2 separate regions of the Homo sapiens genome follow, and region 2 is linked to region 1. The links come from fine-mapping of genetic effects on gene expression. Tissue or cell type: testis. Region 1 holds a variant in brackets; the other region holds the start of a gene. All regions are shown on one strand. Distances are between the middles of the regions.

What was found. PIP is the estimated chance that this variant, and not a neighbour inherited with it, causes the effect.
Region 2: LMNTD1 starts here. The variant in region 1 is fine-mapped to the expression of LMNTD1 in testis (GTEx, PIP 0.94).

The regions. Positions count from the first base shown.
Region 1 is chr12:25,510,443-25,515,834 of GRCh38, reverse strand. All of the region lies in intron 8 of LMNTD1 (lamin tail domain containing 1), which reads left to right. Among named protein-coding and RNA genes, the nearest start is that of LMNTD1, 40 kb to the left of the region's middle. The variant T/C (reference allele first, on the strand shown) is at 2,736.
Region 2 is chr12:25,550,746-25,556,137 of GRCh38, reverse strand. LMNTD1 (lamin tail domain containing 1) reads left to right here and starts at 2,855. Exons shown (of 10, transcript NM_001145728.2): 1 at 2,855-3,069; 2 at 3,149-3,267. The coding sequence starts at 3,179.

The DNA.
Region 1 (5,392 bases):
GAAAGAAATCTATCTTCTATCTGAAAATGGTTGCCTTGTTTTAAACTGTGTCTCTCAAATATGCTACAGAGGAGCCTAGAGACTAATAAATAGGATAATTTTAAAGAAACATCTACACACTGTATTTCCAACTCATGCTGAACACATTTTGTTTTTAAAAACATGTTAAAATACAGCAAGTATAATGTTAAAAGCACCCATATATTAATCATGCAGAATGAATGCATGTTAATATTTTATTGTATTGTTTCACATTACCAAAAAGAAAAATTCATAAATTTGAAGTTCCCTTTAATTGTATTTGCAGTTCTGATCTGATATTGGAATAAATCATTCTGGTTCTCATTTTATACTTTGTTTACATGCATATGGATCCATATATATATATTTAAAATAATTTGTGTATTTTTAATTTACATAAATGGCATCATGCTAAATGTGCCAGCTCTTTTTGACTTACTGTAATTTGGGGGATTTAACTATAGTAATATAGAGAGACCTAATTCAGTCACTTTAACCATTATGTAGTATTTTATTATACAAATTTACTGTATCTTGTTTATTCCCCTATTAATGTTTTTCTCGTCAATAATATAGATGAAAAAATTTTTAAATATTTTAATTTTCTTTTTTACTTAAAAAAAAATTTACCAAGTCTTTGAATGCATCCAAGAAAATGTTATGTCTACGGCAATGATTATCCTTGTGCAAGTCTACTTGTGCATACATACAAAGGTTCCTTTGGGGTTCATACCTAAACTTTTAAAATCTTCTAAAATTCCTACATGTACTTATTCAGTTGTATGGTACCTGTATCTTCAACTTTATTAGATTTTGCTCAACTGCTCTAGGAAGAATTTTGCTAATTTATACTCCCACCAACATAGTAAAATATTTCCCATTCCCCTTATTCTCACCTAACTTTATATTGCCAGAATCTTAAATTATGTGCCAATCTGATGGACATTAACTAGTAACTCATTATCTTAATGTGAAGTTCTTCTTTAATAGTGGTGTTGTGCATATTTTCATATGTAAAAAAATAAAAAATCTTTCCCTATCTCATAATAATTCTCATAATAATAAAGTTATGTGCTTATATTTATTAATTTTTGGGGATTATCCGTTCCCTCAAGCATTTATCCTCTGAGTTACAAACAATCCAATTACACCCTTCAAGTTAGTTTAAAATGTACAATTAAGTTATTATTGACTGTAGTCACCCTATTGTACTATCAAATAGTAGGTCTTATTCATTCTTTCTTTTTTTTTTTTGTATCCATTAACCATCCTTACCTCCCTGCCCTGCAAATCCCCCACTACCCTTCCCAGCCTCTGGCAACCATCCTTCTACTCTGTATGTCCATGAGTTCAATTGTTTTACTTTTTAGATCCTACAAATAAGTGAGAACATTGTGTGTTTATATTTATTTATGATAGTTTTTCCAATTTGCTTTTTGTATATGTCTTTAATATATTTGAAGTTGTTTTTATGTATGGTATGAAATAGTGACCTCAGATTTCTTCGATATGGAAAACCATTTGTCTCAACACCAGAGAGTGTGTCCATCACGTGCACACTGATTTCTAGTACCACCTCCCTCCTATGCTTGGGTCTGGGTCTGTGCTCCCTAGACTGTTCTATTGATCTATCACTGTGCCAATAACACTGTTCCTGTTGTTATTGGTACGTAATCATTCTTTTGCTCTCTTCTTGCTCTTCCCTTTCAGTGTGATTTGGCTTTTCTTAAACTTTTTACTCCTCTTTACAAGAATCATTTTTATCAAGTTTCACATAGAAAAACCATCTTGTTGGTAGTGTGATTAAAATGGTAAGAATTTTAAAGGTCATGTTGAGAGTTGATACCTTTATGATACTGAGTCATGGTATATGAAATCAATTGTCAGTTCATTCAGATTTCTTTCATGGCTTTCATTGATATTTTCTCATTTTTTTCCATAAAATTCTTGTATATCGTTTGTAGATTTCTCACCCAGGCAGGTGTATTGATTTGTTATTATTGTTGCTACTGCTTTTGAAAATGCTATCTCTTTCTATAACTTTTTTTCACTTTTTTAAAGAAGAGGAAAATTATCTTTGTATATTGCTTTTGTTTCAACAAATTTTCTGAACTTTTTAGTTTTGATAGCTTGTAGTCTCATGGGTTTGTTTGCTTGTTTGTTTGCTTGCTTGTTTTTGAAGCAGAGTCTGACTCTCTCACTGTAGCTGGAGTGCAGTAGCACGGTATCAGCTCACTGCAACTTTTGCTTCCCTAGTTCCAGTGATTCTCGTGCCTCAGCCTCCCGAGTAGCTGAAATCACAGGTGTACGCCACCACACCCAGCTAATTTTTGTATTTTTAGTACAGACAGGGCTTTGCCATGTTGGCCAGGCTGGTCTCAAATTCCTGACCTCAAGTGTTGGCCCTCCAAAGTGCTGGGATTACAGGCATGAGCCACTGTGCCTGGCCACATGGGTTGTTTTTTCCCCTCTGTATTGTGTAATTGTGTACAAATGACATCCTTTCTTTCCAATGCTTATAAATTTATATCGTGTTCTTGCATTATTGCATTGGCAATAATGCGAGATAGTTCCAATGAGCATGGCCAACTTTGTCTTATTCATATTTTTAATCGGGATGCATCTTAGTGGAAGATGTGCTGAAAGTCACCACTGAGCATTCATTTTGCTGAGAATTTGTTCCTGTGGGAATTAGCACAAATTTGGGGGAATGT[T/C]CTGAATTCTACAATGTAGGCGGTTAGGAATTTTATTCAGTATAATACAGATCAAATGCACAGGGCCTCTAGCTAAGTTTGTGGCTATGGATTATTAAAGGATTAAATACGATGTGACACTCATCCTGCCCCTCGGTGTTCACAACAAACTAAAATGCCAGAAACCACTCATGGGCAATAAATGTTTCTGATGTTTTGGGAGTCATGAGAAGAGGTTTCATTAAAGCCCCCCCCCATAAAAAAAAAATTGTGAGTAGATTCTCCTAAGAATCCTTTCAACTGGCCCCAAGAGGGATTACCCTTGGCCCCTTACCCCATGCACTACCAAAGCTCTTGCCATAATTGCCCTCTTTGTCTCTTTCAGAAGCTCTCACTCCCATAGCTTCAGGAGTCACCATACCTTCTACCAAAAGCCTGGTAAGGTATCCTCCCCCTATCCTAAGAGGAATTTGACAGCAGATGTCAAGAGGAAACATTTTCACCTCCTTATAAATTCCACTATTATTTCGACTTCACAAATAAGAATTTAGTAAGTGATGGAGCTAGAAAATTTTCCGCTTTTGAATCTTTTTTTAATGTTATAAAATACGTAAAGAACAAAAAAGACACTTCTCTACCCACTTCCCCAAATGAAAAATATTAATACATTGTCGTATTTGCATTAATTATTTTTTAAAATAAGCATTACATGTCAAACGTCTCCTAGATTTCTTTTTCTAGTCCTAGTCCTATTCCCCTCCTTTGCTCCCTAAAGCAACATCCATGAACTAGGGATATTTTTTCTTTTTGCTATTGTCTCGTTTTTTGCTGCTTAATGCAAATCTAACTTCAAATTCAAACATTTTTCCACTGTCAACTGTTGAAGCTCAAAAAACTCAGCTGTAGCTGCAAATATGTATTTCAAACCTATATAACCAAAGCAAATGTTGCAAAAGACAATACTGATTTTTCTAAGTATGACAGATTCTGATATTTCCTACTCTTTTATTTCATTTTAAAATACTTGCCATGACCTTCTAAATTTATTTCATAACCAATAGAGAGGGAAAGATTTGCTGTTTAAGAAACATTGCTTTAGAAATATTTATGAAAAGACGAGAGCAATGGAAAAGGCTCAGGGGAGATAGCATTGGAACTAAGGTATTGAAGGTCGAATAGGAGTTATTCAGGTTGAAAAGAGGGGGGGCAAAGCATTCTGAGTAGAAGAAACAGTACATATTAAAAGCACAAGGAGGCAAGAATAAACTTTGGGTTCAGTGAACAGACAGAAATTGTATCCGACTGAAATATAAGTAGAAATTGAGGTGTTAGTCCAGAAAGTTTGGTAAGGACTAGATGTTAGAGGTATTTGTACACCACCATGTTAGAGTTTCAACTGTATTATGAAAATACTGACGAGGCAACAATTGGATTTTAAATAGGTGTTATAGTTAATAGTTAATAGTTATAGTTAATAGTCTCATATAGTTAGATCTGTGTTTAAAAGAGAATTTTAAAAGCAATGTGAAAAATGAAATGGAGTAGGAAAGATTCCAAACTCTTTATCTCCAGCCCAACATTCTATTCTGAACTTCTGATTTATGAGGCTAATTACTTATAATCTCTAGTTGGATGCCCTACAAGTGTCTCATTCTCAGAATGTTCAGAACAACTCATCATTGTCTTTCCTTCAAAGTCTGTCATTCCACTGATTTTCCTTATATAAGTGAATGCCATTCAGAAACCTGAGGTATCCTAACGGTCTTTCTCTACTCCTTTTCCTTCCTCAACTCCCAAGTATAATCAATCTTGTTTAGGTATCCTAAACATTTCTTCTCTTACTTAAAAATCTTCATTTTCTCCCCATTGCCCTCATGGTGGAGTCCAAATCCATAAAATTGTTTAAGTATCTTTGAGCCAGGGCTGTCCTATCTCATCACACATTCTCCTTCTTGCATTCTATGCTTTAATCATCTTGAAGTTCTTTCAGTTCTTCAAACACACCCTGACTACCTCCAGGCCTTCACACATTCTTTCACCCCTCCTCTTTTCATGGATAATTCTTTTTCATCCTTAAAGTTTCACTTATATGTCACTATCTCCAAAGAACCCCTCTCTGGTCCCCACCAAATGAGTTTTTTGCTCCTAATATGTGTTCTCAGTAATATCTTACACTCACCAAGCAAAGCATTTATTGCACTGTATTGTAAATTCTCTTTTATCTCTGGACTATAAGTGTTAAATTGCTTTTATTTTGCTTGTCTTTTTGTCACTTGCACCAAACTCAGTACATGACACATAGGAGTTAATATGTGTATACTGAAGGACAGACTGAAAAAGAGACACCGAAGATTTTTAAATGACATCTCATAGAGTTAGACTGGTATTTTAATGAGAATTTTAGAAGGAATATAAAAAATAAAATGGAATACAAAATATCCCCAAATCTAGAAAAAAATAAGCAGTAAGGAAGCAAAGGATAAGGAAAGAAAGGAACAACAAAAAAAGATTAGAGAGAAAGACTGAGCACAAGTAAGTCTAGTAGAGTTGTAATTTGAATCCCAAAAGGAGATGATGGAGAGGTTGGGACAGAAACAATATTTAAATAAATAATGGCAAAAATTCTCAAAAACTGATACAAAGACATCAAGCCATAGAATTAAGAATAATAATAAATC
Region 2 (5,392 bases), 40 kb before region 1:
GGCCGGGCGTGGTGGCACATGCCTGTAGTCCTAGCTACTTGGGAGGCTAAGGCAGTAGAATCACTTGAACCTAGGAGGCAGAGGTTGCAGTGAGCCGAGATTGCACCATTGCACTCCAGCCTGGATGACACAGCGACATCCATCTCAAAAAAAAAAAAAAAAAAAAAAAAAAGATTATTGCACCTCATGCACCTCTGCTTCTTCCTTTCAGTTCTTGCTGACCCTCTCCTTCCTGAGCAGACACAGCCATGTTGATGACACCATTAACATTTGAGTCTGTGCATCCCAAACTGAGGCTTCTATTTTAGTCTTTTTGCTATGGAGAACTTAGATATTTGCAGTCAAAAATAATCATAATCTATAATGAATCTCCATGTAACTATTACTCAGCTTTAATAATTACAAGTCATGGCCCAACTTTTTCATCTACATTCTCATCTGCTTCCTACTGTCTGTATTCATTAGAAACAGAGGACGTCATATCATTTTATCTATAAATGTTTTAGTATGTATCACTAAAAGATAAGAACCCTTTTCAAAAAACATAATCATGACACCATATCACACCTAAAATATTTACCAGTTATTCCTTAATATCATTAAGTACCATGTGCTTAAGTTTCTACTGTCTTATAAATTTCTACAGTTTGCTTGAATTAGGATATGTTATATCCACAAATTACAAAAAGTGTCTTTTAAATTTCTTAGTTGATTAGCTAATGTGCTCTTCTGTTTCCTGTATTACATGTAAAGCAGAGGATTCATCAGATTCAGGTTGATTTTGTTGCTGCTGATGGTATTATTGCTACTGTTATTCTCTGTCCAATAAGTTGTATCAACCACATGAATACTACCAAGTTGTATTGCTATTGGTGATGTAATTTTTTCCAAACTGATAACTCTTGGAAACGTCTGAACAAATCAATATAGAGTCTTTCCGGAATTTAAACAATAAATAGTTACATCCTAAAGACTTTGGTATATACTAAAACTGCAAAAATATTTTGTATTTATATGACATATAGAGCTAGGCTTTAGGTTCATATAATTCTAATCTTTTTTTTTTTTTTTTAATGACGGAGACTGGTTCTGTCACCCAAGCTGGAATGCAGTGGCACGATCTCAGCTCACTGCAACTCCACATCCCCGGTTCAAGCGATTCTCCTGCCTTAGCCTCCAGAGTAGCTGGGATTACAGGCACCCGCCACCACACCCAGCTGATTTTTGTATTTTTTTAGTAGAGACGGGGTTTCATCATGTTGGCCAGACTGGTCTTGAACTCCTGACCTCAAGTAATTCACTCCCTTTGGCCTCCCAAAGTGCTGGGATTACAGGTGGGAACCACTGTGCCTGGCCAGATAATTGTAATCTATTTTTCACCTGCATGAATGCCTAGAAAGGCACGTGTCATGTGGGAACACTATTTACTAAGTAGGATTATCTGCCACATTGTGGAAAGTCTAGCATCTCTGGGTTCTGTCTACCAAATGCCACTAATACCCGACCCGAATCTTTAATGACTACTATCAACATCCTCTTACATTTACAAAATGCTCTCTATGGTTCACTTTGGCCCCTGTTGAAAACCACTAAATTAGTTTAAGCAACAACAAAAGAGGAAATTGGTTTTCATTGCATATATACAGTAATTTAAGAAAAGGAAATAAGAAAAATGTCTACTATGGGGAATGAGTATTGAAACACTCACAACTTCAAAGCCTTCAAAAGTTTTTCTCAGCTGACAGAATTTTATTTCTCCAAAATATGTTGGAAAATATGAGCAGGCTCTCTGATAAAACCAATGAGGTCATAACGACTTTATGCTAATATATGCAGTTCAAGTAGAGAAATTTTTAACAGCTAGAAAGCCATCCAGACTGGTACAGGTAGGGAGACTGGGAGAGTGACAAGAAATGACAAGCCCATTTTTAATTCTTTACTAAGCGTAAGTAAAAATTTATAAACCTTCTGATGCTATATTTACATAATTGGCCCATAATGTTCATAAGGAATTGTGCTTCATCTCTGAGAGGGAGGAAATACGGTCAAACGTTTACTTCCTTTTAACTTACCTTATTACGTGTTACACGTCTTGACTTTTTCTTTTTGGCTTTTTAAGACAGTTACTTTATTGTCTTTAAAAATCATTTTCAAATCTATATTAGAAGATATTTTAGTATTATTTCTGAAAGCAGGTATTGTTTATTCATGGTACCTAGCCAGTTTTTAAGAAATAGTAGAATCTTATTAACTATTTTTAATAAGCTTACTCATCCAGTAATCATCATTTATATATCTTATTACTGTATATAATCATGTACTTTCATAGTTATTAATTTTATTGCCATACTATCATTATCATGAAACATTAAGTGTGAGTGTTTTACACAGAGGAGAAACTGAATTAAGTGATTTCTTCTAAATCATACTGCTGGCATAACTAGGAGAAGAATTTAGGTGTTCTGGCTTTGATTTTATGATTTCTACCAATAGACTTCTTTTTGCATTGAAGTTTTATGGTTTCTATTCTTGCTGCCTAGCTGTTTCCATGTGCTCAAAGTATTTGTCCAGAGAGAGAGAAAGAAAAAAAAGAAGAAAAGAGTTGTGATTAATTTCCCCAGTATGTACATACTGGCCTTGACTCTTAGAAATACAAAACAAGATATCAATAATTTTGGTGGCAAAGTCTAGTGGAAGATATGGCTTTCCTAAGAGCAAATTACTTTATTTAATGTCTGCAAACTGCAAAGAAGGTACAGCATCAACATAGGAATTGTTCAGAAACTGGAACTTGGTTACTATGGAGACATTACCTCATAGTTCTAAGAGGCAGTGTTGGCCAGAAGCAACAACTGTAGTCATAAAGGTCTCTTTGCCAAGTTACTGCCCTCTCAAGCTGCTTCCAGTGAATGCTACACACCTGCACCATGGTTTGTCCGACATCCTTAGCCAAGATCAGGATTGGCTATGTTGGTACTTACATATCCTCATGAGAATTGTGGTTCTGGTACTAGTTTGGTAAAGAAATTATTAAACCTAGCTGATGCTTGAAGGTAGTTGGATTAACAGGTGAGGTCACTTTGAAAAGAAAAATCTGCCTTGAACCTCAGCCATATTCGTCATCTGATGTCATGATCTGCTTTCCTAGGAAAGAAAAGAGACTTCTTTTCTAGCCAAGATGAAAGATACACAAGACATTCAGGAAGCTTCGAAGGCAATGCAGAATAAAGTCCATGAGCAGGAAGATAAGAATGAGAAACAAAAACAGTGAGCATGCATAGATGCGATGGAAGCAGAGTTAGAGCTGAGTTATAGAGGAGGAATGATGGCATGCTTGACCTCTTTTGTTTCAATACTCTTATGAACCAGTTAGAACTAGAATATATCTCACAAATTTTCTAGAAATAATGGACTGTAGCATACAACTACTTCCACAACTACTGTTTTAGAAGGTTCTAGTCCTTGAGAAGTATAAAAATCCACCTGGACAGATCTCCATAGTATAAGACCTAGCTGAGATTCCAGCCAAAGTTCCGTTTTTTTTTTTTTTTTTTTTCAGACAGAGTGCAGTGGCGCGATCTTGGCTCACTGTAAGCTCCGCCTCCCGGTTTCACGCCATTCTCTTGCCTCAGCCTCTCGGAGTAGCTAGGACTACAGGCGCCCGCCACCACGCCCGGCTAATTTTTTGTATTTTTAGTAGAGACGAGGTTTCACCGTGGTCTTGATCTCCTGACCTCGTGATCTGCCCGCGTCGGCCTCCCAAAGTGCTGGGATTACAAGCGTGAGCCACCGCGCCTGGCCTCCAAAGTTCCCATTTAATATGTTAAGTCAATTTACAGAAATAGTTTCTTTCTAGAACTATTTTACAGAACTGGGGACAAAAAAATTACCAGAATATTGGTTTTGGAAATGTCCGTAAGAATGTTATATAAAATTATAATCCCTATTTTTACATTTAATATAAATCATTCATCAACTAAAGCATTACCATTGGTTTTCCAATGTTTTCTTTAAAATTGACTTATTGAGTATACATAATTTAAAGCTATTGTTACTTTGGACCTACAAGTCCTATGTTTATTGTTCAGTCCAAGTCCATTTTTAAATATTTGTTCTTAGAGGTCCTCTGAGAAATGATTGTCGTCAATATTATCAATGCAGCGTCTCCCAAAGTAACATTGAAATGCTAGACTTGAGCTTTTGTAACTGCCCCTGTTTTAATGTTAATCAATTACGGAGGGAGTGAGATACCAAGAAGGGGCTTAGAAAATTACTTATGCTTAAGGGAAAGTTAACTAACCACTGAGAAAAATCTCTCATCTTCCAAAAGAAGACTAATAGGTAGGCAAGTGGAAGGTTCAGGTGATGGGCTGTATCACACGAGTTTGTTCCTGAAATGTCTCAGCTCTTTCAAAGATGTGTGCAGCCATTAGAAATTTCTTATTCGGCCAGGCATAGTGGCTCATGCCTGTAATTCCAGCAATTTGGGAGGCCAAGGCAAAAGAATCACTTGAGGCCAGGAGTATTAGAGACAGCCCGGGCAACATAGCAACACCACATGTCTACAAAATTTTTTTCAAAATTAGCAGGCATAGTGCCATGTGCCTGTAGTCTCAGCTACTTGGGAGGCTGAGGCGGGAGGATCACTTGAACCCAGGAGTTGGTGGTTGCAGTAAACTATGATTGTACCACTGTACTCCAGCCTGGATGACAGAGAGAGACCCTGTCTCATAAAAAAAGAAAAGAAAAGAAAAAAATTTCTTATTCACCTACCAAAATAAGAACACCCTATAGCTCCAGGACAGGTTTCTGTGATTGCAAAGATTTTGTTAAGCCTTCTTGGGAGTCTTCTGTGGAATTAAATTTATTTTAAAGTGCTATTGTTTTACTAGAGGAAAAAAATTGAGATCTTATAAAATGAACATGCTGAAAAGAATAGCCAGTCTGTTATGAAGCCCAGATGTAAGGAATGTTGAAAGAGAAAAGCATTTCTCTGCATTTCTCTGCTGTTGTAGTCAATGTCAGGGAGAAGTCGTGTCTTACAATCCTGTCTCATGTTGAACACAGATGAAATATCTGTAATCTGACAGTTTACCTCTAAAGTCTCCTTCCCACTACCTCTACGGTCATACTCAATAGTGTATCTTCATAGGTTAGAGCTTTTCTGACAAATATGAATGCTTGGAGTGTCAGCAGGATGTTAAGTGCACATGCTTCTTAAGCACTGGGCTAGTAATCATGACATTTTCAAAGCCAATGCCATTTAATTATTTTAAAAATTTGCCTGAGATGTCTGTGTCTGCTGAGAGGCACATTAAAGAGCAGTCTAGTTTTGAATACAAAACTCTCCAGGTATAAGATTTCTGATAAAGGAACTTTCACATTGTAGAAC